Homo sapiens: one gene and its partners. Changing the gene in region 2 together with the main gene of any one other region gives a genetic interaction. Each region holds a gene or a part of one and is shown on either strand. Other genes may lie near its edges.

Evidence for each region.
Region 1: changes in FBXW7 (region 2) and RFWD3 are lethal when combined (synthetic lethality), as found in Homo sapiens cells (one study listed by BioGRID).
Region 3: changes in FBXW7 (region 2) and RAB4B are lethal when combined (synthetic lethality), as found in Homo sapiens cells (one study listed by BioGRID).
Region 4: changes in FBXW7 (region 2) and EFHC1 are lethal when combined (synthetic lethality), as found in Homo sapiens cells (one study listed by BioGRID).

Annotation. Positions count from the first base shown.
Region 1 is NC_000016.10:74,656,856-74,663,882, forward strand, and holds part of RFWD3 (E3 ubiquitin-protein ligase RFWD3), read right to left. Parts: exon of another isoform or gene 5,101-7,027; intron 4,599-5,100; exon of another isoform or gene 4,597-4,598; 5' UTR 4,595-4,596; coding exon 4,077-4,594; intron 1-4,076. UniProt on the Homo sapiens protein: E3 ubiquitin-protein ligase required for the repair of DNA interstrand cross-links (ICL) in response to DNA damage. Plays a key role in RPA-mediated DNA damage signaling and repair.
Region 2 is NC_000004.12:152,323,093-152,330,119, forward strand, and holds part of FBXW7 (F-box/WD repeat-containing protein 7), read right to left. Parts: intron 6,694-7,027; coding exon 6,580-6,693; intron 5,298-6,579; coding exon 5,116-5,297; intron 3,140-5,115; coding exon 2,914-3,139; intron 1,303-2,913; coding exon 1,092-1,302; intron 58-1,091; coding exon 1-57. UniProt on the Homo sapiens protein: Substrate recognition component of a SCF (SKP1-CUL1-F-box protein) E3 ubiquitin-protein ligase complex which mediates the ubiquitination and subsequent proteasomal degradation of target proteins.
Region 3 is NC_000019.10:40,781,225-40,788,251, forward strand, and holds part of RAB4B (ras-related protein Rab-4B), read left to right. Parts: intron 1-2,553; coding exon 2,554-2,616; intron 2,617-2,696; coding exon 2,697-2,851; intron 2,852-5,440; coding exon 5,441-5,536; intron 5,537-5,623; coding exon 5,624-5,739; 3' UTR 5,740-5,754; intron 5,755-7,027. UniProt on the Homo sapiens protein: The small GTPases Rab are key regulators of intracellular membrane trafficking, from the formation of transport vesicles to their fusion with membranes.
Region 4 is NC_000006.12:52,437,336-52,444,362, forward strand, and holds part of EFHC1 (EF-hand domain-containing protein 1), read left to right. Parts: intron 1-968; coding exon 969-1,256; intron 1,257-7,027. UniProt on the Homo sapiens protein: Microtubule inner protein (MIP) part of the dynein-decorated doublet microtubules (DMTs) in cilia axoneme, which is required for motile cilia beating.

The DNA of each region.
Region 1 (7,027 bases), on a different chromosome or scaffold from region 2:
CTTATGGATGACTTTTGCCGGGCTCAAGACTTCAGTTAAGAAAGTAACTGCAGATGTGCTAGAAACAGCAAGAGAACTAGACTTAGAAGATGTGACTGAATTGATCTCATTCCTAGATTTTCCTTTCCTTCTTATTGGTTAGTTTATTGCTTATCCCACTGAATATCCATTACCTCAGGCAGGCCCCAGGGAAAATGATTTAGGCTTTTCACACTCTGCATTGCTCAGAGTCAAGAGTAGTCTTGCAAATGGGGTTTTCCAGAGAACCACCAACAGGTCATATAAAGATAATTCTCTGGGAATGAGGCTTTGAAGGTGCTCCAATCCCTCTGGTGCCTGCCAGGCTGTTGGTTTTTACTATGATTACAGGCAGATGCTTTTCACAACTATCAAGGAGCTGGAGAAGGTGACAAGAATAAGGAATGCCATAGAGCTCAATGAGATTCGGCTGTTTTTCTTTAATAATCACTCCCTGGATTGCTATAAGCATTTGGTCAGTTTCCTGAATTATGAAAAAGTTGATCCTGACAAATTCTGCCAGTTGTTTCACTACTTCCATGGAGATAATTCTCTGTGGTCCTTACTCTGCCATTTTCACTGACATCACCCAGGTTTTCTTTTTCTTTTTTTTTTTTTTTGAGACGGAGTCTCGCTCTGCGGCCCAGGCTGGAGTGTAGTGGCGCAATCTCGGCTCACTGCAACATCCACCTCCCGGGTTCAAGCGATTCTCCTGCCTCAGTCTCCTGAGCAGCTGGGATTATGGGCACCCGCCACCACACCCGACTAATTTTTGTATTTTTAGTAGACAGGGTTTCACCATGTTGGCCAGGCTGGTCTCGAACTCGTGACCTCAGGTGATTCGCCTGCCTCAGCCTCCCAAAATGCTGCGATTACAGGTGTGAGCCACTGCGCCTAGCCAGGTTTTCTTTTTAGACAGTGCTAAGCAAGTTTACCAACTCCATTTCTTGAGATTCTAAGTGAACAGCAGCTATAGCTACCATGAGACTAAACACATAAGAAAAGCATTTCATAAGAAGATTTAATCAAATACATACTAGAGTTAGGGTGTTGACACGTATATCAATAGAATTCTACATAGAACCCAGTAAAAAAGTGATAGACGATTAAAAAAAATCACTCTTTAATATTGCTTTTATGTAGCAAAGAATTTCCAAAGTCAGGCAAGAACACAGGAAAGGGGAACTGTGAAAACCAACAGGAAGCAGTGCTAGGGTTTCTCTTTGGGAGCACAGATTTAGAACCCAAGAAATTCTCCTCCTTCCCTGCACTTACCAACTTTGAATTTTGCTCCTTCCCTACTCTCTGTAGTCCTAGACTCCGTATGCTCCAGGAAAACAATATTGTGATCTGTGTTATTCACCAATATATCTAGGGCAAAGTTTAGTCTCTCACACAGAGGAGTGTTATCAATATTTGATGAATGAGTGATGACCCCCACTGCCAGAATGAAACCGCCCCAAACAAATCAGAAAGGAGTTTGTGACCTCAGCTAAGCCTGTTGGGAAGAATAAGCTCACTACTTAGCTTTCCATAGCTTTGGCTTCTTGGCTGACTGTGAGTCAAAAGCTGTTCACCTTGGCCCAGGCTTTCAACACCTGGCCCAGGGACAGTCTGTCAGATGAGTAAATGTCAAACACCACACTGAGAAATTCATCTCAAGAAATTCAGAAGTTATAAGCGATTAGTCCTGGGAAAGGTCATACTTCAGGGAAAAAAGTTTTAATCACATTTACCTGGCTCCAGAACTGATGTAATTTCCACTGAACTGCACACTTCCTGACCGTTTAGGTTATTCCCTTTGTGGAGACAGATTATGGCTGCCAAATAGCTTGACTGACATCTTTCAACATTTAAATTCTGTATAACTCATTCCCTGAGCAGATTCTATAATTTTTTTTTTTTTTTTTTGAGACAGAGAGTCACTCTTGTCACCCAGGCTGGATTACAGTGACAAGATCTTGGCTCACTGCAAGCTCCGCCTCCTAGGTTCAAGGAATTCTCATGCCTTAACCTCCCAAGTAGCTGGGACCACAGGTGTGTGCCACCACGCCCGGCTAATTTTTTGTATTTTTAGTAGAGATGGGGTTTCACCATGTTGGCCTCGAACTCCTGGCCTAAAGGGATCCGCCTGCCTTGGCCGCTCAAAGTTCTGAGATTACAGGCGTGAGCCACTATGCCCAGCCACATCAAGCAATTTTCTCACTAGAGTTTGGCTTCTGTTTGGCTCTCTAGTGGTTCTGTTTTTCTTTGTAAGTTGGCATCTGGTTTATAAGTGTCACCCTTAAGTTGGTTAATACAAGTCACTGTGCTTGACCAAGAGGAATCCACTCTGCGTCCCCCAACAAGAATGAGTGCATGGATAAGCAAGACTGAGGACTTGCAAGAGGCCTCCTGACAGTCAGCCAGCTCCTGGAAACACCACTCACAACTCTCAACCATGGAAAGTTAGCCCATTTACTTTGGGAGGGTCCCCAAATTACACCATAAGGTGCCTTCACCTATAACACAAATGTATGAAATCTTACCCTGCCTTTATAACGTGAGTAATGACATCTTAAAACAACAGACTATAGCCAAGCCTGCTGGTGCACGCCTGCAATCCCAGCTACTTAGGAGGCTGAGGCACAAGAATCGCTTGAACCCGGGAGCCAGAGGTCCTGGTGAGCTGATACTGCGCCACTGCACTCCAGCCTGAGTGACAGAGCAAGACTCTTGTCTTAAAAACAAAAAAAAAACCCAGAGTAATATGCATTTGCAACTCTTGTCAACACAGAACTAGGCATCTGTCATCCTTGATGGGCACTACAGACACTGGAGCCACAGTCATGGCAAGCCCCAACATTAAAATCAGCAGGATCCATGAAAAAGAATGCTGAATCCAGATACAGAAGGCACAATTCCAATTCCAGCCTTATCACAACCAAATCACAAATTATCCCATCAGCTTCCTCATTTGTAAAACATGGGTAATAGATGACCTAGCTACCACTTTTTAGTATCATCTCAATATTTTCACAGTGTTAGAAAACATCGGCATGGTTGCGTATGCCTGTAGTCCCAGTTAATCATCAAGAGGCTGAGGTAGGAAGATCGCCTAAGCCTGGGGAGGTCGAGGCTGCAGTGAGCTGTGATTGCACCACTGCACTCCAGCCTGGGGAGCACAGTGAGACCCTGTCTCAAAAATAACAATAATAAAAACAAGAAGAAAGAGAAAACAAAGGGATTTCGTCGAAGCTTCCTCCATCTGCCTATGTAGAAAACAGGGCAGATCCAGGCTCCAATATCAGTGCTAACTCCTCTATTCTATAGTTATGAGACCCTGAACAAAGCCCTCTCTGAGCGGAGATCGCACCACTGCGCTCCAGCCTGGGCGACAGAGTGAGACTCCATCTCAAAACAAAACAAAACCAAAAACAGACAGGTTTAATTAGTTAGGTGTGGTGGCACGCGCCTGTAATGCCAGGTACTGGGGAAGCTGAGGCAGGAGAATCGCTTGAATCTGGGAGATGGAGGTTGCAGTGAGCAAAGATTGTGCCACGGGAATCCAGCCTGGACGACAGAGTGAGACGCTGTCTCAAAAACAAAAACAAAAAACCAAAAAACGGACAGGGTATAGGCAATTGTTATTCTTCATAATAACCCTGTCAAGACTTGACAGCTAAGCCCTTCAAGAGGCAAGTTCAAACCAAGACTATGAAAGAAAATTAATTAATTGTGCCCCCAGGTGGAATGCCAGTGAATAATGAATTTGGGTGAGTAGAGACTTGCAAGTGAAGAAAGAATTTTTGGTGTACAAGACACAATCTGAACAACAGCCAATCTCTACAGAGATTGCCAACAAACTACCACCTAGTTTTCAAGGCACAACAGTTTAACTTATCCCTTCATTACTTTGTGAAGTAAGGCAAGCACTTTTATTTCCACCTATGAGGAACTGGGGGTCAGAAGTTACCTGACTTGCCAAAAGTCACACTGTCAGTCCTTGAATGGCAGAGCCTCAGTTTCATAATTTCTAGTACAGCAATGATCACAGACTTATCCATATATTTATTTACCTGGCACTGTCTGTCCTCTGAGACCCTCCGGCTCTTGCCCTCCGTGAAGCAGATACCCTCCTTCTTGTTCTCATTGGCCCTACACTGTGGTTTGAAGATGAAGGTCTCAGGAATTCCAGCATGCCATGAAGTCTCTGCAGTCCGCTGATGAAGTTGGTCATTGAATGCAACGAAGATGCTGGGATGGTGTGATTACCATCAGATCCCTGCCTATGTTGTTCTGAAGTTCTTGGATTGATGTTCTCCACAGTGTCTTCTCCCAAGACCTCCACTTCTGTCAGGTCAACAGACAGTTGCGGAGCAGGCTGGAGCAGGGGTGGTGTCGCTTGGCTGCTGATCACCTCAGCAGGAGCTGGCTGGAGGATGGATGGTACCCCCTGGCTGCTGACCACATCAGCAGGAACAGGCTGGAGGAGGGCTGGTCCCCCTTGGCTGCTGGCCATGCCAGCAGGAGCTGGCTGTTGTTCGGCATGATTTAACTGCACCTGAACATCATATTCCATTGCTTCATGAGCCATCACTAGAGAAACAGTATTTGTAAAAAGTATTAATAAAATAGATAAAACATGCTATGTAGGTGACAGAATCATATTTAATCTTTCTGATTTTATGTTTAATATCATTCTTAGCAAGACTGAGAAGCTTCAAGAGAAGATTTTAACTACTTAAGTCAGAAGTGTTTGGTAATGGACTTTCCTCTCTATAACAAGCATTTATAACCAGTTTTCCGGTTTGCCCTTAGAAAACATGAAGTCCTGTGATCATAGTAGTATCTTCCAAAATAGAAAGATCTATAAACCAAGGAGATTAAACTACTGGGTCTAAAAGTAATCTCTCAGACACTTTGCAGTTCTCTCAAGCTGAATATGGACATTCACCAAAATCAAATGCATATAATGCAGTATCTAATTTTAGCAGGCAATATTAATCTTTCACAGCATCAACAGTTACAAGGGATAAATAGAGAAAGGACATTTTTTACACTTGCAAAATTAACTGTTACTAACTCAAAATGGAAACTTACCTAATGTTTCCAAAAAGGCTGAGCAAACTTTATCCTATCCCTTTCATTATTTTTGTTTTCCATCTCTAATTCCATCATGTTAGCGTATTCAACAAATATTTATTAAGCACCTATGTTCTTTTCATGTTTCCTATCTTTAATTCCATTGTATCAGTTTGAAAACTACCACCTAGTTTTTAAACTAAAAAAAAAAATTTTTTTTTGTTATATAGATGAAGGCTTCCTATGTTGCCCAAACTGGTCTTGAATGCCTGGCCTTACCTCCTCATGCATCAGGACAACAGGACTGAGCCACTGTGCCTCCCTACCACCTAGTTTTTAAAGTACATCAGTATAACTTATCCCCTTAATTACTTTGTGAAGTAAGGCACGTGCTTTTATTTTCATCTGACTTATGAGGAAATGGGGGTTCAACTAATAGTTATTAAGCACCTGTTATGCAGACAAGACACCCTAGAGGCAAAAACAGATAAGACCCCATGTATCAGAGTTTAGATTCTAGCAAGTAAGATGTCAATAAACAAATACATGAAAAAAATTATAGATTATGATGTTTGGGGTTGAGGAGACAAAGAGGACCAACTAAGACACAATTGTGAGGGAAGTACTCTTTTAAAGAGTGAAAATTGGGCTGAGGCATGAAGGATTAAAAGCAGCTGGCTATGCAAAGAGCCAAGAAGAGTCTCAGAAGGAAATCAGTGCATAGGTCCCTGATGAGCATGGGTTTCACTGATGAACAGGACACCATTATTAAAGGGCCTATGGGCCTTGGTAAGGAGTTTCTTCTATGTTAGGAATGCACTGTAGGGGTGCAAGAGCATAAGCTAGGTGACCAGTGTAGAGGCTATTGTGGGAGTCCAGACCAGAGGTCAGAGAGACCTAGGCAAGAGTGGTAGCAGTGGAGATGAAAACAAACAGACAGCTTTAAGAATCTTCAGAATGGTCATGCTTCTTTTTTTTTTTTTTTGAGATGGAGTCTCGCTCTGTTGCCCAGGCTGGAGTGCAGTGGCGCGATCTCGGCTCACTGCAAGCTCCGCCTCCCGGGTTCACGCCATTCTCCTGCCTCAGCCTCCCGAGTAGCTGGGATTACAGGTGCCTGCCACCACGCCTGGCTAATTTTTTGTATTTTTAGTACAGCCGGGGTTTCACTGTGTTAGCCAGGATGGTCTCGATCCCCTGACCTGGTGATCTGCCAGCCTCAGCCTCCCAAAGTGCTCGGATTATAGGCATGAGCCACCGCGCCCGGCCAATACTCATGTTTCTTAAAATCATCAAAGCAGATTAAACCACCTGAGGAACAGAATGACAGAAGAGGGCTGAAGACTAAAGTCAGAGACACTACTGTTAAAAGTACAACAGAGTAAAAGAAGCCAGTTAAGGAAGATTATAAAGTAGGAGGAAACATGGGAATGTGGTGTCTTGGAAAAACAATGTTTCAAGGAAGGAACAATTGAGTGTCAAGTGCTACTGGGGGGAAGAACGGCCGCTAGATTTGGCAACATGAGGATGACAGGTGACCTAAAAAAGCAGTTTCCCTGAAGTGGTGGGGTCAGAGGCCAGACTGGTGCAGGCTGAATAAATGGAAGGAATTCTAATAAACATAGTGGACGAAGTACATATATGTATCTTTCTCTCTCCACTCCAGTCATTCCTAAAACCCACGAACATGACCCCCACAACCTGAGACATTTTTTTAAGAAAGGATAAATTAACCAGGACGACACAAATGCAAACAGGGTATGATATGCAAACCAGTTTTTTAAGGCCATAAAGGAGAAACTGATGATTGATGACTGCTTAGCAGAGCCAAAAGATAAAACTCAAAGCCTGCAAAGGGCACAGTGGTTGGGGTGAGGTGTGTTATTGAGAAGCAAGCTGATTCCCACTAAAGGGACTGTAAAAACCAGGTACCACAAAAGGCAATATT
Region 2 (7,027 bases):
TTACAAAGTTCTTGTTGAACTGTAAACAGGTCACAGCACTCTGATGCTTGTTGGGACCTAGACAAAAACCAAAAGAATTTAATTACTGGTTAGAAATAATGGCTATGAGTTAGTTACATTATAATTTGTAGACTTCTACTTTAGAACATACAATAAATGCAACATTTGAAATGATACATATTTAGAAACCCATGTCCTCAGTATTTTAGGATCAGCATGGATGTAAGAAAATCTGGTAGTGATTTGTAACTGAAACATTAACTTTCAAGAGGTCTGTCTTCCAAGAAGCTTGGTTAGCTACCAGACAAACATCTTATTTTCTGGCTGTGTGAACGACAGCATTCCTTGGTGAGGATGTAGATAGTGCAACTTCATACCTTCTGCTGATGGACAAATGAGCACTAAGAGATCTATTACCCCACCACCATGAACCACTCAAAGCTGAACAGTCACTATTCCAAAACTCTGAGGAGAGACAAAACCAATGAGTAAAAAGCTGCAATGTTGCCTATCAGATGGCCCCACTGAAAAAAACACTTTCTAAGGGCTATAACAAATAGAAAAAGTTAATCATGAGGCACTGCTGTACCTCATCTAATATTAGTGATTTTCACTTGTTTCTTTCTCTACTTTAGTAGGCACTATTATTCCTCTCCATTCCAGTTAAGCACGTGACTAAGTGGAGGCCAAATAAATTTTCTATCAAGGATGCTGTTGTTTTTTTCAATAAGGTAGCCCTTTAAAATTGGACTACAAATTCAAAATGCAATGGTCAATCAAAAAATATAATGAGTACGTTGCTTCTATGATATAGCCAAGATCTTTCTTCTCACTGTTCTTAAAGGTTAAGTAGAGTCAATTGAACATGCAGGAAGTGATTAAACAATTTTATATTACATATTAAAAACACAGTTTAAAACATTTCCTCAAGAGTAGACTAGTTCTGTAAGTCAGGGTGAAAATATTCATAAACTTTTCTGAAGTAACCATTCTGTATGAGGTTGACTCTTTTTGTGATGCTAAGGCTCCATATTTCTCTTGAATAATGATCTCATTTTTAATGAACAAAACGAAAGGTGAGTAAGACTTACCTTGCAATGTTTGTAAACACTGTCCTGTTTTGATATCCCAGATTTTAACTGTAGAATCTGCATTCCCAGAGACAAGAATATTGTCTTTGAGTTCCATTCCACTTGTTAACGACTGGTGCCCTGTTAACGTGTGAATGCAATTCCCTGTCTCCACATCCCAAACACGGATTGATGTATCAAGAGATCCACTCACCACATGGATACCATCAAACTACAAAAGACACAGTTTATTAGAATAGAAGTATGGATACTCTTCCTATCAATTACTGACCTTAATCCTAGTAGGAAAGGGGGAAGAGGATGGGAAACAGGTAATGCCAGGAACAAAATGAGGTACTAAGATAAAGTGGCAATGAGGATAAAGTGCATGCCATCAAGCAACTCTACAATGTATGTTCTCACACACTTCTATCAGAAAGGCTCATCTTTATGCCAAGCAGCTTCAAACTAGATGCAGAAACAACTTAAAATGAAAACAAAGCACCTAAAATGAACAATATGTTAATTTTCAAATCATCTGGCCCCACCTAGCTATATATCATGGATGACTGAGAGAATTGCTATGAGTTTTACTTCCCACTAGGAAGCTGAGACTAATGACATAGCTTATGATAAACGGAATGCTTATCAGCACCTAAGGCATGAAAAGGGCTAGAGATAACTTTCGTGATGTTCAAAAGTAAGTTCCATTAAAAACTGTGTGTAAAATAAAATTTCATTTATAAGAACCTAATGCTAATTAGGAAATGTGCCAAAAGATAATTGTATCTGGAATCAGAAGAGGTGGCATTTTGAAATCAAAAGCAAACTACATACTACCTCTTCTCCAGCTTCCCAGCTACACCAAAAGTCAATAACAGTCTATCATTTCTAAACAATAATGTGGCTACCTCTTTTCTCAATCAAACAGTTTATTTAAATTAGAATATTATATTCATTAAGCTTCTGAACATATCAGAAACAGGTGCAGCCAATTCCCCTTCCTCCAAATTCATCACCTTTTCTAATTTAGCAAACATTTTTATCATATTGTCAATATTTCATGACATGGACAATATCCCTTTGACAAAGAAACAAATATCCTAAGAACAGAATTGACAGTACTAAGATTATGTACTAATTTGCTGAACATTAATGGGTAATAACTGGTAAATAAACTATATAAGCTATAGGAAATATTTTTACATTAAAAATGTTGCCTTTCTGGAAATAAAACAAGATTCATATTCTAAACTTCCTATTCATCTAGTTAATGATCTCAAAATATGGCAATGTTTTCAAGGATATGGGCTTGAAATATAAACCAAAAAAAAGAAATCGGTTTAGTCAACTTTACTTCTTTATGACTACAAATCAGTGGGCCTGGGACAGTAGAGTGCTTTATGCAGAAAGGATCTATTTCCACTTTGAATGGGGATGGAATCACAATTACATGGTCCATCAACTTTCAGCTATCAAAGCAAAGGGGCAGCTTTTGGCCATATTAATCTTCTGCAAAGGAGTTTCTTAAAATCCAGGTTACTCTCCTATGAGACTATTTAACCATTAATTAACATAGCAAAACTTAGAGCCCCAAAGTGTCAGGTTGCAAAACAAATATTTGTATTTAGAGGAGAAATAGATCACAGAAAATTGAAAGCATTTAAATAATTTTGAAATTTACACTTTCTTCATGCCAATTTTAACGTATATAAAAACAGCAGAATAATCTGATTAATCTTTTTTGGACTGTACTGGATCAGCAATTTGACAGTGATTATCTGAGTAAAACAACCTTATGATTCATCAGGAGAGCATTTAAGGGAGAGATAAGAGATCTTACCTGTAATGAATAGACTCTATTAGTATGCCCCTGCAACGTGTGTAGACAGGTTTCAGTCTCTGGATCCCACACCTTTACCATAAAATCATATGCTCCACTAACAACCCTCCTGCCATCATATTGAACACAGCGGACTGCTGCAACATGACCCATCAAAACATGTAAACACTGGCCTGTCTCAATATCCCAAACCCTAAGAGTGGCATCTCGAGAACCGCTAACAACTCTGCAGAGGGAGAAACAGAAAAACAAAACAAAACAAAAAAACCCACGTTTAGAATTTTTAATAATATGAGAAAACATGGTAGATTTAGTCAAGGTTTTTTAGCTTTTTTTTTTTTTTTTTTACACAGCAACAACCATTTTCAAAAGAAATCCTATGTAAAACCTTGGTATATAAACATAATAAGGGAATGGGAAGTTGGGAAGCCTAGAATGCTGCATGCTTGGTTCCCTGACCTGGGGACCTTAGGTTCAGCACCTTAAGGTTCTGTGGGACTGAGTTTGAAAACCACTGTACTGTATTTTTTAAAAAGCAGCAGAAGCTGCCTCTAAATATATACAATAAGATTTTGATTTTAGAAATAAAATGTTAATGTGGGCATATGTATAAAATGTTAATGGGAGAACTCTAGGTGGTAGTGGTTTAAAGAATTTAAATTTTCTTTATGTTCTTTGCCATTTTCCAAAATTTCAATTATGAATGCATATATTCCCTTGTGATTAGGTAAAAAATTCAATAAAGTTTATACAACAAAACAAGTCAGAATTTGGAATTTAAACAGCTGCAGATTTGTGTTTACACTATACATTCCAGTAAAAATTAACCAGTTTTAGACATGTCCTCAAACACAGGCTGCTTATGCTTTTAATGATTAGATTTATAAATATGCAATAGGCTATAAAAATATTAAGAGATAAAGATTTTAAAAGATATGTACATCTTTAAAAACAATGGCTATCCCTTAAACATTTGGTTCAACATCAGCGCTATACTCTTCTGAAAACCAGAGCAATATACAAATACTGTAATCACTTTTGGATTACAAAACAAAGCTGAAAACTCAGGTATCCTTATGTCATTCTGAAGAGATAAAGAAATACCACAGTTTCCATATTTTAAAAAAGTAGATAATTAAAGGGTTGAGAGAACCCTTTAATTGAGAACCTAATGTTGAGAGAACATAATGGAAACTGGAATACAAGGTCTCTTGATACTCATCCCCCAAATTTTAACAGTATAGCACACTGTTCAAAGTAGAGGTAAATGACAATTGAAAAGGTACTCCTTTTCACATATTACAAATCTGGTGTGAAATCTGCTTAATGTAATTGTTCTTAATAAAGAAGATGCGATAGACAGAATTAAAGGTAAAGACTGCCATGGATTCACTGTAAGGACCTTTCAGAGAGACCTTTTTTGACAAATGAGGTAGAAATCACACTTGTTTAACAGGGGTATGATGACGATAATAGAAAGATAGGATTTTAATAGGAGGGCTTTACAGGAGGAGATAAAAGCAACAGCAAAGGCACTGAGAAGAGAAAGTCAAAAAGTCCAGTTTGGCAGAAACCATTTTGAAAACTGGATCGAGGATTTCTTCCTTAATTCGTTAGTCAACAGTAGGCTCAAAAAGACTTAAGAACTGGGCAGTGACACTATCATAATTATAAAAGGACTATATGTCAGCTGTATAAAACATAAGATAACCAAGTTAGAAAGCTGTGACAATAGTTCAGAATGAGAGAACAAATTACCCACAGGCCTCAGCTTTTGCCTAGACTTAGAGATAGGGTGGGTGTAAGGTGGGTAGGTAATTTAAAAAGGCTCAGACGCTTGAAGCCTGAATTTGTCCCACTTGCGGAAATAAGAATATCAAAAAAAGAGAGAGAAAACATGATTTCTGCTTGAATATGATGAGTCATCAAAGATACAGAACAACAAAAAGGATTAGAGATTAGAGAGTAGAGAGTTTCAAACAGGAAGCTGACAACACTAGCAAATGAGAAAGGAAATTTACAGACAATCACCAATTTTAAGACAAAACGCTATGGCTTTCCTAGAATAGAAACATCTGAAGTGTAATAATTAAATCTAATTTAAGAGCACACTGTCACTATTTCAGTAACTCTACACAGAAAGGGCCCAAATTCACCAATAATAGAGGAAGAAGTCCCAACCATGACAAGATTTTCCCTTACCTTTTTTCATGAAGATGCATACAACGCACAGTGGAAGTATGCCCATATAAGGTGTGTATACATTCTCCAGTCTCTGCATTCCACACTTTGAGTGTCCGATCTGTAGATCCACTAATGATGATGTTGTCTCTCATTTGTGATGACCATACTCCACCTGTATGTCCCACTAATGTTCTCAGACACTGGAAAAACACTTAAGATGATTACTTTTGGGTAGAAAGGAAAAGTGATTTAAATAAAATTTAATAGCTCATTAAAATTTGGAGTAAAGTTACTTATTTAATTTGTTTGGCTCTTCAGAAAATATTACATCCGTATAAAATGATCCCATCACTATTTATTGTTTTGTTTATTCAAAAGCATTATAAATTTATATAAGCACAAGCAATTGTGTATGTAGTATGTAGAAAGCAAACATATGATATAAAACATGATATAATAAAAAGGAAACACGACATGAAAGCAGTTATGATAGCTCTGGCCTGGCCTCTTTGATGAAATAATACTGAAATTGCAACTGGGTTTCTTCCATGGGAATAGATTCAATGAAAGTATGCCAACAGTATTGGGTGTGGCTACATACCACATTTCATCTGAATCTGCCCCAGGGCAGTAGTTAGGAGCCAGTGAAGCTACTTCTAGACAAGTAAAGACAGACATTAAAGCCCTGTAATAAATCCCAAACTAATATTACACTATGGAAATATAAAGCTGCTTTAAAAAATTTTAACATCTGACTTGGAATATTTATAAGATACTTGCCAAGAAGCAACATGGTAAAAGACATTTTAAAAGACATGGATTTTTTTTTGTTTTCATACTCTCTTCTGTTATTTTTTAGGTGGCAATTACTTAATTCATGAAAATATTCTCTACTGGACAGATAAAAATAAATATTCACTAGAGAATCATTAAGGTATGATATGGTACACAGTCAAGCTGATTGCTTGGGCTTTTTCTTCAAACTTAACATTTAAATGCCTTGTCCACTCTCATCTCACAAGGGTTTGAGATAAGTATAAATTAACATGATTTATTAAGTTCTAAACTACAGGTAGGTTATCAACAAAGCAGTTTATAAGGAAAAATAAATATCCCTCAACCATACTTTTGAAAAACATTACAAAGTAATGAGGTATAACTTAGATAGTAAATAAAAGTGGGGAAAAATTGAGCCAAGAAAAACATAAAGCACCCTTGAAAATGTTAAAGTATCTGTCACAAAGATAGACAAACTATGTAAATGAAAAAAAATTAATGAAACCTCTATCATGAGAAGCATCACTATCCTCATGCCATTGGCTTTCATAAATATGGGGAAAAAAGCTAAGTTATGAGCTCTGATATTTGCTATCCAAATAACTAAGAATCAAAAATGAATTATTGTTTTCTTTTTTCCAGTTGCTACTTGCAATGATATACACAAAATTATGACTTTGTGAAGTGTAGGAAGAGTAAACTTACTTTGCCTGTGACTGCTGACCAAACTTTTAAAGTGTTGTCATCAGAACCACTAACTATTCGGTTACCACAAAACTGTAAGCATGTGATCACATGATCATCATGTCCTTTCAGCACCTATAAGAAAGATGTGCAGATTAGAAATATGTTAATTAAATTATGTTCTTTAAAATACTGGTGAAGAGAAAAATGAAGGCATAAACAGGAACAGTAATTTGTAGTCTATCTCTAGAATTTAAATTTATATAAAGCATTATTTTTCCTGGCTGACGAATCCAGAATTAAACATTTTATTGTTTCCATAGTCTATTATTTATACTCAAAACATCAACTATTAAAGTTTTACTGCATCAAGACCTCATAAAGATGGTTCAAACACCAATGTATTTGACAATAATCTATTCCATCTGTTCAAACCAGAAGAATATGCCTCTAATTTTTACAACTTTGA
Region 3 (7,027 bases), on a different chromosome or scaffold from region 2:
TGTAGTGAGTCAAGATCGCACCACTGCACCCCAGCCGGGGTGACAGAGCGAGACTCTGTCTCTGAATAAATAAATAAATAAATAAATGAATAAATAAATAAATAAATAAATAAATAAATAAGGGAGGTGAGGAGACACAGAGAAACAGAGGTCAGAGGCAGAGAGGGAGACAGGGTGAGTCAGACAGGTGTAGTTGGACGTTGAATGAATGAATGCACGAATTTACGGGAAGGCAAGGGTGAGCATGAGAGCCACAGAGATGGAACAGAAAGAGAGACAGTGAGAAATAGGGAACTGAAGACACACACGCCAAGGCAGGAGAACCGCTTGAGTCCAGGAGTTTGAGACCAGCCTGGGCAACATTGTGAAATCCCATCTTTCCAAAAGAGAGATGGAGAAATGGACGTGTTGTGGGAGAGAGAGAGAGAGAAATGCGTAGGGCTCAACACACTGTAGGTCTTCAGGAAATGCCTGCAGAGCAGAAAAGTTGATAGACACATAGAAACCTTAGGAGAGGCCGGGCGTGGTGGCTCATGCCTGTAATTCCAGCATTTTGGGAGGCCGAGGCGGGCGGATCACGAGGTCAGGAGATCGAGACCATCCTGGCTAACATGGTGAAACCCCGTCTCTACTAAAAATACAAAAAATTAGCTGGGTGTGGTGGCAGACGCTGGAAGTCCCAGCTACTTGGGAGGCTGAGGCAGGAGAATGGCATGAACCCAGAAGGCGGAGCTTGCAGTGAGCCCAGATCGCGCCACTGCACTCCAGCCTGGGCGACAGAGCTAGGCTCCGTTTCAAAAAAAAAAAAAAAAAAACCTTAGGAGAGTCGGAGAAACAGAGAGCAGGGAGAGAAATAGAGGGAATTCAGTCCACGGAAAAGTGTGATCTATGGCAGCATCTAGTAGCTGCTGAGTTAATTCTTGCGTATGGATTAACTGCCTGAGGTGCACAGAGCCCAAAGGCAGAGAGAGGGGCTGAAGGATAGACAGGTGTGTAGCATGGGCTAGGTTTACGGTGAGTGCTTAGTAAATGCTGTGGAATGATTGCATGAGTTCCAGAAGGACCCAGACTGGTGAGACAGAGAATGCAGAATTGGCTACACTGGGAAGGAGACTCCACCTGACACAGCAGGAGAAGGATAAGCAGATGTTGTATAGTGCTTGGGCAGGGCCAGGCAAAGGGGAGATTTGCTCAGAAAATGTTGAATGAATGAATGCACAAATGCATGGGAAGGCAAAGGTAAGCATGAGAGAGCCACAGAGATGAAACAAACAAACAAAAAAGACAGAAATAGGGAATTAAATAGGGCCAGGCACGGTGGCTCACGCCTGTAATCCCAGCACTTTGGGAGGCCTAGGCGGGCAGATCACTTGAGGTCAGGAGTTCAATACCACACTGGCCAACATGGCGAAACCCCATCTCTACTAAAAATACAAAAATTAGCCGGGCGTGGTGGTGCATGCCTGTAATCCCAGCTACTTGGGAGGCTGAGGCAGGAGAATCACTTGCATCCGGGGGGCAAAGGTTGCAGTGAGCCAAGATCACGCCACTGCACTTCAGCCTGGGCGACAGAGCAAAACTCCATCTCAATCAGTCAATCAATCAATCAATCAATCAATAAAAGACATGTAGGGCCGGGCACAGTGGCTCACGCCTGTAATCCCAACACTTTGGGAGGCCAAGGTGGGCGGATCACTTGAGCTCAGGGGTTCGAGATCAGACTGGCCAACATGGCCAACCCCATCTCTACTAAAAATACAAAAATTAGCCTGATGTGGTGGCGTGCATCTGTAATCCTGGCTACTCGAGAGGCTGAGGTGGGAGAATCACTTGAACCCGGGAGGTGGAGGTTGCAGTGGTTGCAGTGAGCCGAGATCATGCCACTGCACCCCAGCCTGGGAGACAAGAGTGAGATTCCTACTCAAAAAAAAAAAAAAAAAAAAAAAAAGAAAAAGGAAAAAGACACATAGGTTAAGGCAGGAGAATCACTTGAGCCCAGGAGTTGGAGACCAGCCTCGGCAACCTAGCAAAGCCCCATCTTTACAAAAAATATTAAGAAATTAGCCAGGTGTGGTGGTGCACACTTGTAGTCCCAGACACTACATAGGCTGAGGTGGGAGGATCTCTCCGTTGGGATACTGAGCCTAGGAGGTCGAGGATGCAGTGAGCCAAGATCGTACCACTGCACTCCAGCCTGGGCTACAGAGCAAGACCATCAAAAAAATAAAAAATAAGACACACATGAAAGAGACACAGAGAGAAAAACAGACGAATGGAAAGATAGGGACACAGGGAGAGACAAAAATGGAGATTCATAAATAGAGACAGCTGGCCAGCTAAGTGAGATAGAAGCTGAGAGAGGCGAAGAGAGAGGGACTTCAAGGATGCAAGAAGAGAGAGGAATTGCATGGTGACCCGACCAAGGCCAGGTTTTGGGGGATGGGCCAGCAGTGAAGGGGGGGGCCTCCGAACCACCAGTCTGTCTCTGTAGAGGGGGGCATTCTCGGGGCAGACCCCAGCCTTGGGGGTGACTGGGTCCCCCTGGCCCCACAGGTCAGTGACGCGGAGTTATTACCGAGGGGCGGCTGGAGCCCTGCTGGTGTACGACATCACCAGGTGGGTGCCCGGGGTGGGTGGGGTAGGGCATGGGTGGTTCCTCTCCTGCACTGCCTCCCTCCCTTCTCCCTTCTCCACAGCCGGGAGACATACAACTCACTGGCTGCCTGGCTGACGGATGCCCGCACCCTGGCCAGCCCCAACATCGTGGTCATCCTCTGTGGCAACAAGAAGGACCTGGACCCTGAGCGGGAGGTCACTTTCCTGGAGGCCTCCCGCTTTGCCCAGGAGAATGGTGAGGGCTGTGTCGTGGACCAGGTGGTGGTGGGGGTGGACAGTCCACAGGGACCATGGGTTTACTGGCTCTCAGTGGCTGTACCCAGCAGGGGAACGTGGAGGTTCAGAAGTCTGGGTTCAAATTTGAGTGTTGGCTGGGTGTAGTGGCTCACACCTGTAATCCCAGCAGTTTGGGAGGCCAAGGTGGGAGGACTGCTTGAGCCCAGGAGTTTGAGACCAGCCTGGACAACACAGTGAGATCCTATCTCTATAAAAAATTTAAAAAATTAGCTGGGTGTGGTGGCTCATGGCTGTAGTCCCAGCTACAGTGGAGGCTGAGGCAGGAGGATCACCTGAGCCTGAGAGTTTAAGACTGCAGTGAGCTGTGATCACGCCATTGTACTCCAGTCTGGGAGACAGAGCAAGACACTGTCTCCAAAAACAACAACAACAACAAAACAACAACAAAACTAAGTGTTGCCATCAGTGAGCTATGTGATTACACTGGTTCTCAGTTTCTTCATCTGGAAAGTGGGATCACAGTGTTTCTGCCCCACAGTGTGCTGTGATGATTAAGGGAGATTGTGGAAAGTCCTTAGCACCCGCCACAGAGTGGGTGCTAGATTAATGTTGGCCGCTAAGGTTTCGCCTACCGTCAGGAGGCCGCACAGGGTATTGGTTTTTTAAATTAATTATTTTATTTATTTTTTCCTCCTACCGCACCTTCCTGGGTATTGGTTTAATGTAGAGATTGCAACCCTAGATGGCCCTAGGTGAAAGGCACTTTTTTTTTTTTTTTTCTGAGACGGAGTCTTGTTCTGTTGCCCAGGCTGGAGTATAGTGGCGCAATCTCGGCTCACTGCAACTTCTGCCTCAGCCTCCCGAGTAGCTGGGACTACAGGTGTGCGCCACAACGCCTGGCTAATTTTTATATTTTTAGTAGAGACGGGGTTTCACCATATTGGCCAGGCTGATCTCGAACTCCTGACCTTGTGATCCGACTGCCTCGGCCTCCCAAAGTACTGGGATTACAGGCGTGAGACACTGCGCCCGGTGAAAGGCACATTTTTGAATACAGGAGATGGGATGGGGTAGATCCTTGAGTAACAGGTACTGGTGTTAAGGGGAGTGCAGCATACTGACAACCCACACCAAAAGGTTTGCAAGGGCCAACCACAATGGCTCACACCTGTAATCCCAGCATTTTGGGAGGCCAAGGTAGGAGCATCACTTGAGATCAGGAGTTTTAGACCAGCCTGTGTAACAGAGTGAGACCCTGCCTCTACAAAAAAAAAAAAAAAAAAAAAGCCTGGGTGTGGTGGTATGTGCCTGTGGTCTGGGGTACTCAGGAGGTTGAGGCAGGAGGATCACTTGTGCCCAGAAGTTCGAGGCTGCAGTGATCTGCAATCACACCACTGCACTCCAGCCTGGGGGACAGAGAGAGACTTTGTCTCAAAGAAAAAAACAAAAAAGGTTTGCAAGTATAAACTCATTTGAAAACATTGTGTTGGCCAAACCACCCACATCTGGTGGCTTGAGATCTGCCTGTGTTCCCCTGTTTTGCAACCTCCAGGTTTAAAGGAGGTTTTGCCATCAGAGAGGTGTGGGTGTGAATTCAGCTCTGATTTTCTGACTGTGGGGCCTTGTCATGCTGCTGATGGGTAGACTCTGGTTGGCCTGTTCCTGTCCTAGATGGTGCTAGAGACACAGTGTTGGAGACAGCCCTAGGCCCAACCTTCATGGAGCTCACAGTTCAGTGGGTGAGGGTGGAAGGACAGACCCACTTCCAGACAGTGACACCTCAGGAAGGTCAGGGCTTGATGGTGAAGCACCGGGAGACAGGGGTCAGAGCCAGCAGGGGAGAGCCCCAGAGGGTCAGGGCCAGTACTGGGGGGGCAGGCAGAGGGATCGGGGTGGGATGGAGAACACAGGCAGAGGGGTCAGGGCTGGGATAGGGCAGGCAGAGGCAGAGGGGTCAGTTGGGATGAGGGGACACAGGCAGAGGAGTTACATGGGATGGGGGGCAAGGGCAGAGGGGTTGGGGTGGGATGGGGGGCCCAGGTAGAGGGGTCAAGGCCAAGTTTGGGAGGCACAGGCAGAGCGGTTGCATGGGATGGGGGAGCATGGGCAGAGGGCTCAGGGGTGGAATGGGGCAGGCCTAGGCAGAAGGGTCAGGGGTGGAATGGGGCAGGTCCAGGCAGAAGGGTCAGGAAAGGAATGGGGCAGGCCCAGGCAGAAGGGTCAGGGGTGGGATGGGGACCCAGGCAGAGGGTTGGGGCCAGGATGAGGAAGCACAAGCAGTGGGGTCAGGGCCAGGATAGGGGGCCACAAGAAGCTGTGGGAGCCCTAAGTCGGTACCTGACTCAGCCCAGGAAGTCAGGGAGGACTTCTTGGAGGAGGAGCTGTGTGAGCTGAGCTCTGAAGGAAGAGCTGGGTGGGCATATCGGGAAGCGGACATTAGTGGCAGGGAAATGGCATGCGCAGAGGCCTGAGGTGAGGGTAAGGGGGGATGGAACATTGGAGGAACAGGATGAGAGTCAGCAGGTGAGAGCTCAGTGGAGGGTGGGGACTAACTGGGGCCCTGACCTCAGAGTGTGTGCCCCTGCAGAGCTGATGTTCCTGGAGACCAGCGCTCTCACAGGCGAGAACGTGGAGGAGGCGTTCCTCAAGTGTGCCCGCACTATCCTCAACAAGATTGACTCAGGTGAGGCCCCGACCGGCCCGAGTGGGAGCGAAGGGCAGGCCCGGGGGTCTCCAGGCAACCAATGCTGACCTCTCCCCTTCCCCACAGGCGAGCTAGACCCGGAGAGGATGGGCTCTGGCATTCAGTACGGGGATGCGTCCCTCCGCCAGCTTCGGCAGCCTCGGAGTGCCCAGGCCGTGGCCCCTCAGCCGTGTGGCTGCTGAGCTCTGTGGAGCCAGGTGGGACACTGGGGGCTTTAGGGAGGCAGGGCGGCCTCTTGGGCATGGGGGAGATGGTGTGGAGATAGACACTGAACATGTGATGACAAGAGAAACAGAGTGAGAGAAAGATGCAAAAACACACAAGCTAAAGGAGGCATCTGGCTGGGCGCAGTGGCTCACGCCTGTAATCTTAGCACTTTGGGAGTCCGAGGCGGGCGGAGGCAGTTCATTGGGTGGGGGTGGGGAGACAGACCCACTTCCAGACAGTGACAGCTCAGAAAGGTCAGGGCCAGGCCTGGCTCGGTGGCTTATGCCTGTAATCCCTGTACTTTGGAAGGCCGAGGCGGGCGGATGACCTGAGGTCAGGAGTTCGAGACCAGCCTGGCCAACATGGTGAAGCCCCCTCTCTACTAAACATACAAAAATTAGCTGGGCGTGGTGGCAGGTGCCTGTAATCCCAGCTACTCGGGAAGTTGAGGCAGGAGAATCACTTGAACCTGGGAGGTGGAGGTTGCAGTGAGCTGAGATCACACCATTGCACTCCAGCCTGGGTGACAAGAGCAAGACTTTGTCTCAAAAAAAAAAAAGAAAGAAAGGTCAGGACCAGATGGGGAGGCACTGGGGGAGAGGGGTCAGAGCCAGCAGGGGAGAGGCCCAGGGGGGTCAGGGCCAGGGTCAGGGCACAGGCAGAGGGATCAGGGTGGGATAGGGCAGGCAGAGGCAGAGGGGTCAGGTGGGATGAGGGGACACAGGCAGAGGGGTTGCATTTGATGGGGGGTATACATAAGGTCAGGAGTTCTAGACCAGCCTGGCCAACGTGGTGAAACCCCTCCTCTACTAAAAATACAAAAATTAGCCAGGCATGGTGGTACATGCCTATAGTCCCAGCTACTTGGGAGACTGAGGCAGGAGAATCACTTGAACCCAGGAAGCTGAGGGTGCAGTGAGCCAAGATTCAGCCACTGCATTCCAGCCTGGGCGACAGAGCAAGACTCTGTCTCAAAAAAAAAAAAAAAAAAAAAAAAAAGAGACATCTGCCAGGCCACAGGGAATCCACCTGCAGCCCCAGGCCAGCTTCCTGCCCTAGACCTTGACCCTCCCATTCATAGTTCTCCAGCGATTTATTGAGCGCCTGCTGTGTGCCAGGCCCTGCTCAAGGCACTGGGGATATGGCAGGGAGTACAACAGACTCCCATCCTCATGGTGCTGACATTCTCTTTGGGGGAGACAGGTGATAAACAAGAGATGTAAGTCGACTGGGCGCAGTGGCTCACACCTGTAATCCCAGCAC
Region 4 (7,027 bases), on a different chromosome or scaffold from region 2:
TGAAGCTAGTAGAGTTAAGTCCTTTAAGATGTATTCTCACCAAGGAACATATGCAATAAATAGTTTATACACATTGTGAGTATTTAAAGCAGATGTCAGCAAACTTTTTCTGTAAAGGGCAGTTAGCGTATATTTTGGCCATTGCAGTGGTTTTAGCCTGCGTAGTCTGCCACAACAAAATACCACAGATTGAGTGGTTTAAATAATAGAATTTATTTTCTCACAGTTCTGGAGGTTGGAGGTCCAAGATCAAGGTGCCAGCTGGTTTGAATTCTGGTGAGGGCTCTCTTCCTGGCTTGCATACAGCGGTCTTCTTGCTATGTCTTCATGTGGCCTTACCTTGGTGTGTACATGTGGGAGTTAGGGGAGGGAAGTAACTCTCTTTCTCTTCTTCTCTTCTAAGGCAACCAGTTCTATGGGATTAGACTTAAAGGTGGCATACCTCTATCCTTAAGATCTGGTTTAACCTTAATTACCTCCTAAGGATCCTGTCTCCAAATATAGTCACATTGAGGGTTAGGGGTTCAACATATGAATTTTGGGGATGAGGGGGACACAATTTAGTCTGTGTATCTCTGTCACAACTATTCAACTCTTCCCTTGTAATGGGAGAGCAGCTGTTAACAAAAAAGCGTAAATTATTTACATAATTATTTGTGGATTGAAAATTTAAATTTTTATAATTTCCATGTGTTATGAAACATTTTTTAAAATTTTTTAAACCATTTAAATATGTAAAACCCACTCTTAGCTTGCAGGTCATAAAAAAAACAGGTGGCAGGTTAGATTTGTCCCATGGACTATAGTTTGCAGTATCTGTAGTTTTAGAGTATCAAGATTTACAGGATAGAAGTGATGAGTGTTAAAATCTCCCTGTGTGGTTCTGTTTTCAGGAAGGTACTTGATATTTTTCAGATGACTATGACAAGCTAATAGTACACCATTTCTCCTTTCCTTGTATGTTATAGGTACTGAAATTTGATGCCTATTTCCAAGAAGATGTTCCTATGTCAACTGAGGAACAGTATAGGATCCGTCAGGTGAACATTTACTATTATCTAGAAGATGACAGCATGTCTGTCATAGAGCCTGTTGTAGAAAATTCTGGAATCCTTCAAGGCAAGTTAATAAAACGCCAGCGGCTAGCCAAGAATGACCGGGGTGACCATTACCATTGGAAAGACCTAAATCGAGGAATAAACATCACAATTTATGGCAAAACTTTCCGCGTTGTTGACTGTGACCAATTCACACAGGTATAGCATATATTTTTGAAAGTTGTGGGGTCTGAGGCATCATTCTAATTTATAGAAGGATACATTTCATTTATTAGGGTAAGGGGAGGACATTGGTAATCTGTCCTGCATGAATTATTATGAATGGCTAGGTATTTGCATGTGTGTATGTGCTAATATGTGCCAACACTAATAGTAACATAATTTTTTCAGAATGATATTAATACTTATTCACTCAAAATCAAACTCTCATCATAGCTGAATAATTTGGTAAGAAACCAGGTTAAAATGGCAGTTCAAACAGGGAGTAGGGGAATAGCATCCCTGCTGGGATGTAAGTATGGAAGAGGGATTAAACGTTTTATCTTAAGTGTGAGTTTACAAAAATAGCACTACTTCTATTAGCAGATATGAGCCTAAAATTTTTTGTGTAGCTCATATATTTTTGGTAAATGATACTTGCTATATTCTAGGAAAGCTTACCATCTAAAGAATTTCTGAAATGAAACCATTTTTAAATGAAAAAACCTCTTCTATATGTAAAAAGTCCTCTATTTCGTAAGTTTGGATTTTTTAATACAAAGGAAACTTTTATTAAAGTTACATGCATAGAGGATATAGGTGGCCTTTCTTTACTACAAAGTGTAGGAATTAGGAAGTCAATTCCAAATTTGTCTTAGTTAAAAAAATATTTCTAGCAGCAAAGATATAGTTTCTGAAGTATTTTATGTCCCTATTCCAGGATACCTAGTGCCATATGTGACTAATTTTTACCATGCACTGAGCTCCTATGAATCCATTATTGTTTTCATTTAGTAGTTTGTTTAACAGATATTTATTTGCATGCCTGCTTTGTTCCATGCACTGTTCTAGGTGCCAGATGTTTTCAGGAAGGTACTTGATATTTTTCAGATGACTATGACAAGCTAATAGTGCACCATTTCTCCTTTCCTTGCATGTTATAGGTACTTGCCCCTATAGAGGTTCCAATCTTGTTGGAGGAGATAAGCAATAGCAAATAAATAGATTGGTTATATGTCAGATGATGATAACAGCAATGGAGGAAAATAAAGCTGAGTAAAGGGAATGGAAGTTGAGGGGCTCTTTATAGAGGCGGATCAGAGAATGCCTCAGTGATAAGATGACATATGAATAGAGGCCTGAAGGAAGTAAAGAAAGGAGCCATGGCATCAGTGCCATTCCAAAGCAATAGAGAAAAATAGCTTCAAAAGTAGAGGTGCTAGACCATCTTTGAGATATTCTCCCGTTCCAACATATTTTTATCTCTTTGCTTTTTAGGTGTCTGAGGTCTTATATATCATAGGCAGTTTCACAATTGTACCAACAGTGAGAAATGATAAAATGTTATCTAAACATAAATGTATTAACAATTATTTTTACAGTTGTGTTTTCATAACAATTATTTTTACAGTTGTGTTTTTATGGGCAATTTGAACATTTGCAAGTTAATCACTGAGCGTTTGACCTAATCTATTTATAGTCGGTTCTCATTATTGACAGTAATTAGGACTATAAAGTCACCACAAACACTGAATTAGTGAATACTGAACCACTAGTCTTAGAGGAAATACAGGGTTAGGTTCCCACTAATCTCTGGCCACATTTTTGTCAACTGATCAATACATAAGTTTGATTCATGTATGTTTCTGTTTAAAGACACCTTATTTAATATATACGGTTGATTCATTAACATTAAACTCACACCCAACAGCACTATAACTCACGTCTGAACAAAGCTTATCTAAGACATGCATTTTCTCCATGAGGTGTGTTACAGCCTTCTTGTGCTTAGGAACACTAAATAGCACTTCATCACTAGGCACTGGGACCCTTTAAACAGCAAAATCACCAACAAAAAACACAAAAATGCAAAAAATCTGGCACCTTCATGTATATGTATATGTATGTGTATATGTATCACATTTTCTTTTTCCAGTTTACCATTGATGGGCATTCAGGTTGATTCCATGTCTTTGCTATTATGAATAGTGCTGCGATGAACATACTTGCGGGTATGTCTTTATGGCAGAATGATTTATATTCCTTTGGGTATATACCCAATAATGAGATTCCTAGGTCAAATGGTAGTTCTGTTTTCAGGTCTTTTAGGAATCACTACACTGCTTTCTACAATGGTTGAACTAATTTATACTCTCATCACCAGTGTATAAACATTTCTTTTTCTCCACAACCTTGACAGCACCTGTTATTTTTTTACTTTTTAATAATAGCCATTCTGACTGGTGTGAGATGATATTTCATTGTGGTTTTGATTTGCATTTCTCTAATGATAGTGATGTTGAGCTTTTTTTTCATATGGTTATTGGCCATGTGTATGTCTTCTTTTGAGAAGTGTCTGTTCATGTCCTTTGCCCACTTTTTAATGGGGTTCTTTGCTTTTTTTCTTGTAAATTAAAGTTTCTTATAGATGGTGCATATTGGACCTTTGTCAGATGCATAGTTTGCAAATATTTCTTTCCCATTCTTTAGATAGTCTTTTTACTCTGTTGATGCTTTCTTTTGCTCTGCGGAAGCTCTTACGTTTAATTAGATACCATTTGTCAATTTTTGCTTTTGTTGTGATTGCTTTTGGTGTCTTTGTCATGAAATCTTTGCCCATTCCTATGTTTAGAATAGTGTTGCCTTGGTTGTCTTCCAGGGTGTTTATAGTTTTGGGTTTTACATTTAAGTCTTTTATCTATCTTGAGTTGATTTTTATATCTGGTGTAAGATATATGGCTAGCATATGGCTAGCAGGTTATCCCAGCACCTTTCCCCATTGCTTATTTTTGTCAACTTTGTTGAAGATCACATAATTATAGGTGTGTAGCCTTATTTCTGAGCTCCCTATTCTATTCCATTGGTCTATGTGTCTGTTTTTGTACCAGTACTGTACTGTTTTGGTTACTGTAGCCCTGTAGTATAGTTTGAAGGCAGGTAACATGATGCCTCCAGCTTTGTTCTTTTGCTTAGAATTGCCTTGACTATTCAGGCTCTTTTTGGGTACCATTGAATTTTAAAGTATTTTTTTCTAGTTCTGTGAAGAGTGTCACTGGCAATTTGATAGGAATAGCATTGAATCTGTACATTGCTTTGGGCAGTATGGTGACTGTAAAGATATTGATTTTTCGTATCCATGAGCATGTAATGTTTTTTCATTTGCTTGTGTTATCTCTGATTTCCTTAAGCAGTGTTTTGTAATTCTCATTGTAGAGATCTTTCATCTCCCTGGTTAGCTGTATTCCTAGGTATCTTATTCTTTTTGTGACAGTTGTAAATGGGATTGTGTTCCTGATTTTACTCTCAGCTTGGCTGTTGTTGGTGTATAGGAGTGCTAGTGATTTTTGTATGTTGATTTTGTGTCCTAAAATTTTGCCGAAGTTGTTTATTAACTTAAGGAGTTTTTGGGATGAGGCTCTGGAGTTTTCTAGATATAGAATCATGTTTTCTCCAAACAGGGATAGTTTGACTTTCTCTCTTCCTACTTGGATGTCCTTCATTTCTTTCTCTTGACTGATTGTTCTGGCCAAGACTTCCAATATTGTCTTGGATAGAAGTTGTGGAAGAGGGCATCCTTTTCTTGTGTCAGTTTTCAAGAGGAATGCTTCCAGCTTTTCCCTGTTCAATATAATGTTGGCTGTGGGTTTTTCATAGATGGCTCTGATTATTTTGAGGTGTGTTCCTTTAATACCTAGTTTATTTATTTATTTATTTTATTATTATACTTTAAGTTATGGGGTACATGCGCACAACGTGCAGGTTTGTTGCATATGTATACATGTGCCATGTTGGTGTGCTGTACCCATTAATTTGTCATTCAATTAGGTATATCTCCTAGTGGTATCCCTCCCCACACCCCCCACCCTATGACAGGCCCCAGTATGTGATGTTCCCCACCCTGTGTCCAAGTGTTCTCATTGTTCAATTCCCACCTATGAGTGAGAATATGCAGTGTTTGGTTTTCTGTCCTTGCGATAGTTTGCTCAGAATGATGGTTTCCAGCTTCATCCATGTCCCTACAAAGGACATGAGCTCATCATTTTTTATGGCTGCATAGTATTCCATGGTGTATATGTGCCACATTTTCTTAATCCAGTCTATCATTGTTGGACATTTGGGTTGGTTCCAAGTCTTTGCTATTGTGAATAGTGCCGCAATAAACATATGTGTGCATGTGACTTTATAGCAGCATGATTTATAATCCTTTGGGTATATGCCCAGTAATGGGATGGCTGGGTCATATGGTATTTCTTGTTCTGGATCCTTGAGGAATCACCACACTGTCTTCCACAATGGTTGAATTAGTTTACATTCCCACCAACAGTGTAAAAGCATTCCTATTTCTCCACATCCTCTCCAGCACCTGTTGTTTCCTGACTTTTTAATGATCTCCATGCTAACTGGCATGAGATGTGTGGTTTTGATTTGCATTTCTCTGATGGCCAGTGATGATGAGCATTTTTTCACGTATCTGTTGGCTGCATAAATGTCTTCTTTTGAGAAGTGTCTGTTCATATCCTTCGCCCACTTTTTGATGGGGTTGTTTTATTTTTTCTTGTAAATTTGTTTAAGTTCTTTGTAGATTCTGGATATTAGCCCTTTGTCAGATGGGTAGATTGTAAAAATTTTCTCCCATTCTGTAGGTTGCCTGTTCACTCAGATGGTAGTTTATTTTGCTGTGCAGAAGCTCTTTAGTTTAATTACATCCCATTGGTCAATTTTGGCTTTTGTTGCCATTGCTTTTGGTGTTTTAGTCATGAAGTCCTTGCCCATGCCTATGTCCTGAATGGTATTACCTAGGTTTTCTTCTAGGGTGTTTATGGTTTTAGGTCTAACATTTAAGTCTTTAATCCATCTTGAATTAATTTTTGTATAAGGTGTAAGGAAGGGATCCAGTTTCAGCTTTCTACATATGGCTAGCCAGTTTTCCCAGCACCATTTATTAAATAGGGAATCCTTTCCCCATTGCTTGTTTTTCTCAGGTTTGTCAAAGATCAGATGGTTGTAGATGTGTGGTATTATTTCCGAGGGCTCTGTTCTGTTCCATTGGTCTATATCTCTGTTTTGGTACCAGTACCATGTTGTTTTGGTTACTGTAGCCTTGTACTATAGTTTGAAGTCAGGTAGCGTGATGCCTCCAGCTTTGTTCTTTTGGCTTAGGATTGTCTTGGCAATGCAGACTCTTTTTTGGTTCCATATGAACTTTAAAGTAATTTTTTCCAATTCTGTGAAGAAAGTCATTGGTAGCTTGATGGGGATGGCATTGAGTCTATAAATTACCTTGTGCAGTATGGCCATTTTCACAATATTGATTCTTCCTACCCATGAGTATGGAATGTTCTTCCATTTGTTTGTGTCCTCTTTTATTTCATTGAGCAGTGGTTTGTAGTTCTCCTTGAAGAGGTCCTTCATGTCCCTTGTAAGTTGGATTCCTAGGCATTTTATTCTCTTTGAAGCAATTGTGAATGGGAGTTCACTCATGATTTGGCTCTCTGTTTGTCTGTTATTGGTGTATAAGAATGCTTGTGATTTTCGCACATTGATTTTGTATCCTGAGACTTTGCTGAAGTTGCTTATCAGCTTAAGGAGATTTTGGGCTGAGAGGATAGGGTTTTCTAAATATACAATCATGTCATCTGCAAACAGGAACAATTTGACTTCCTCTTTTCCTAATTGAATACCCTTTATTTCTTTCTCTTGCCTGATTGCCCTGGCCAGAACTTCCAACACTCTGTTGAATAGGAGTGGTGAGAGAGGGCATCCCTGTCTTG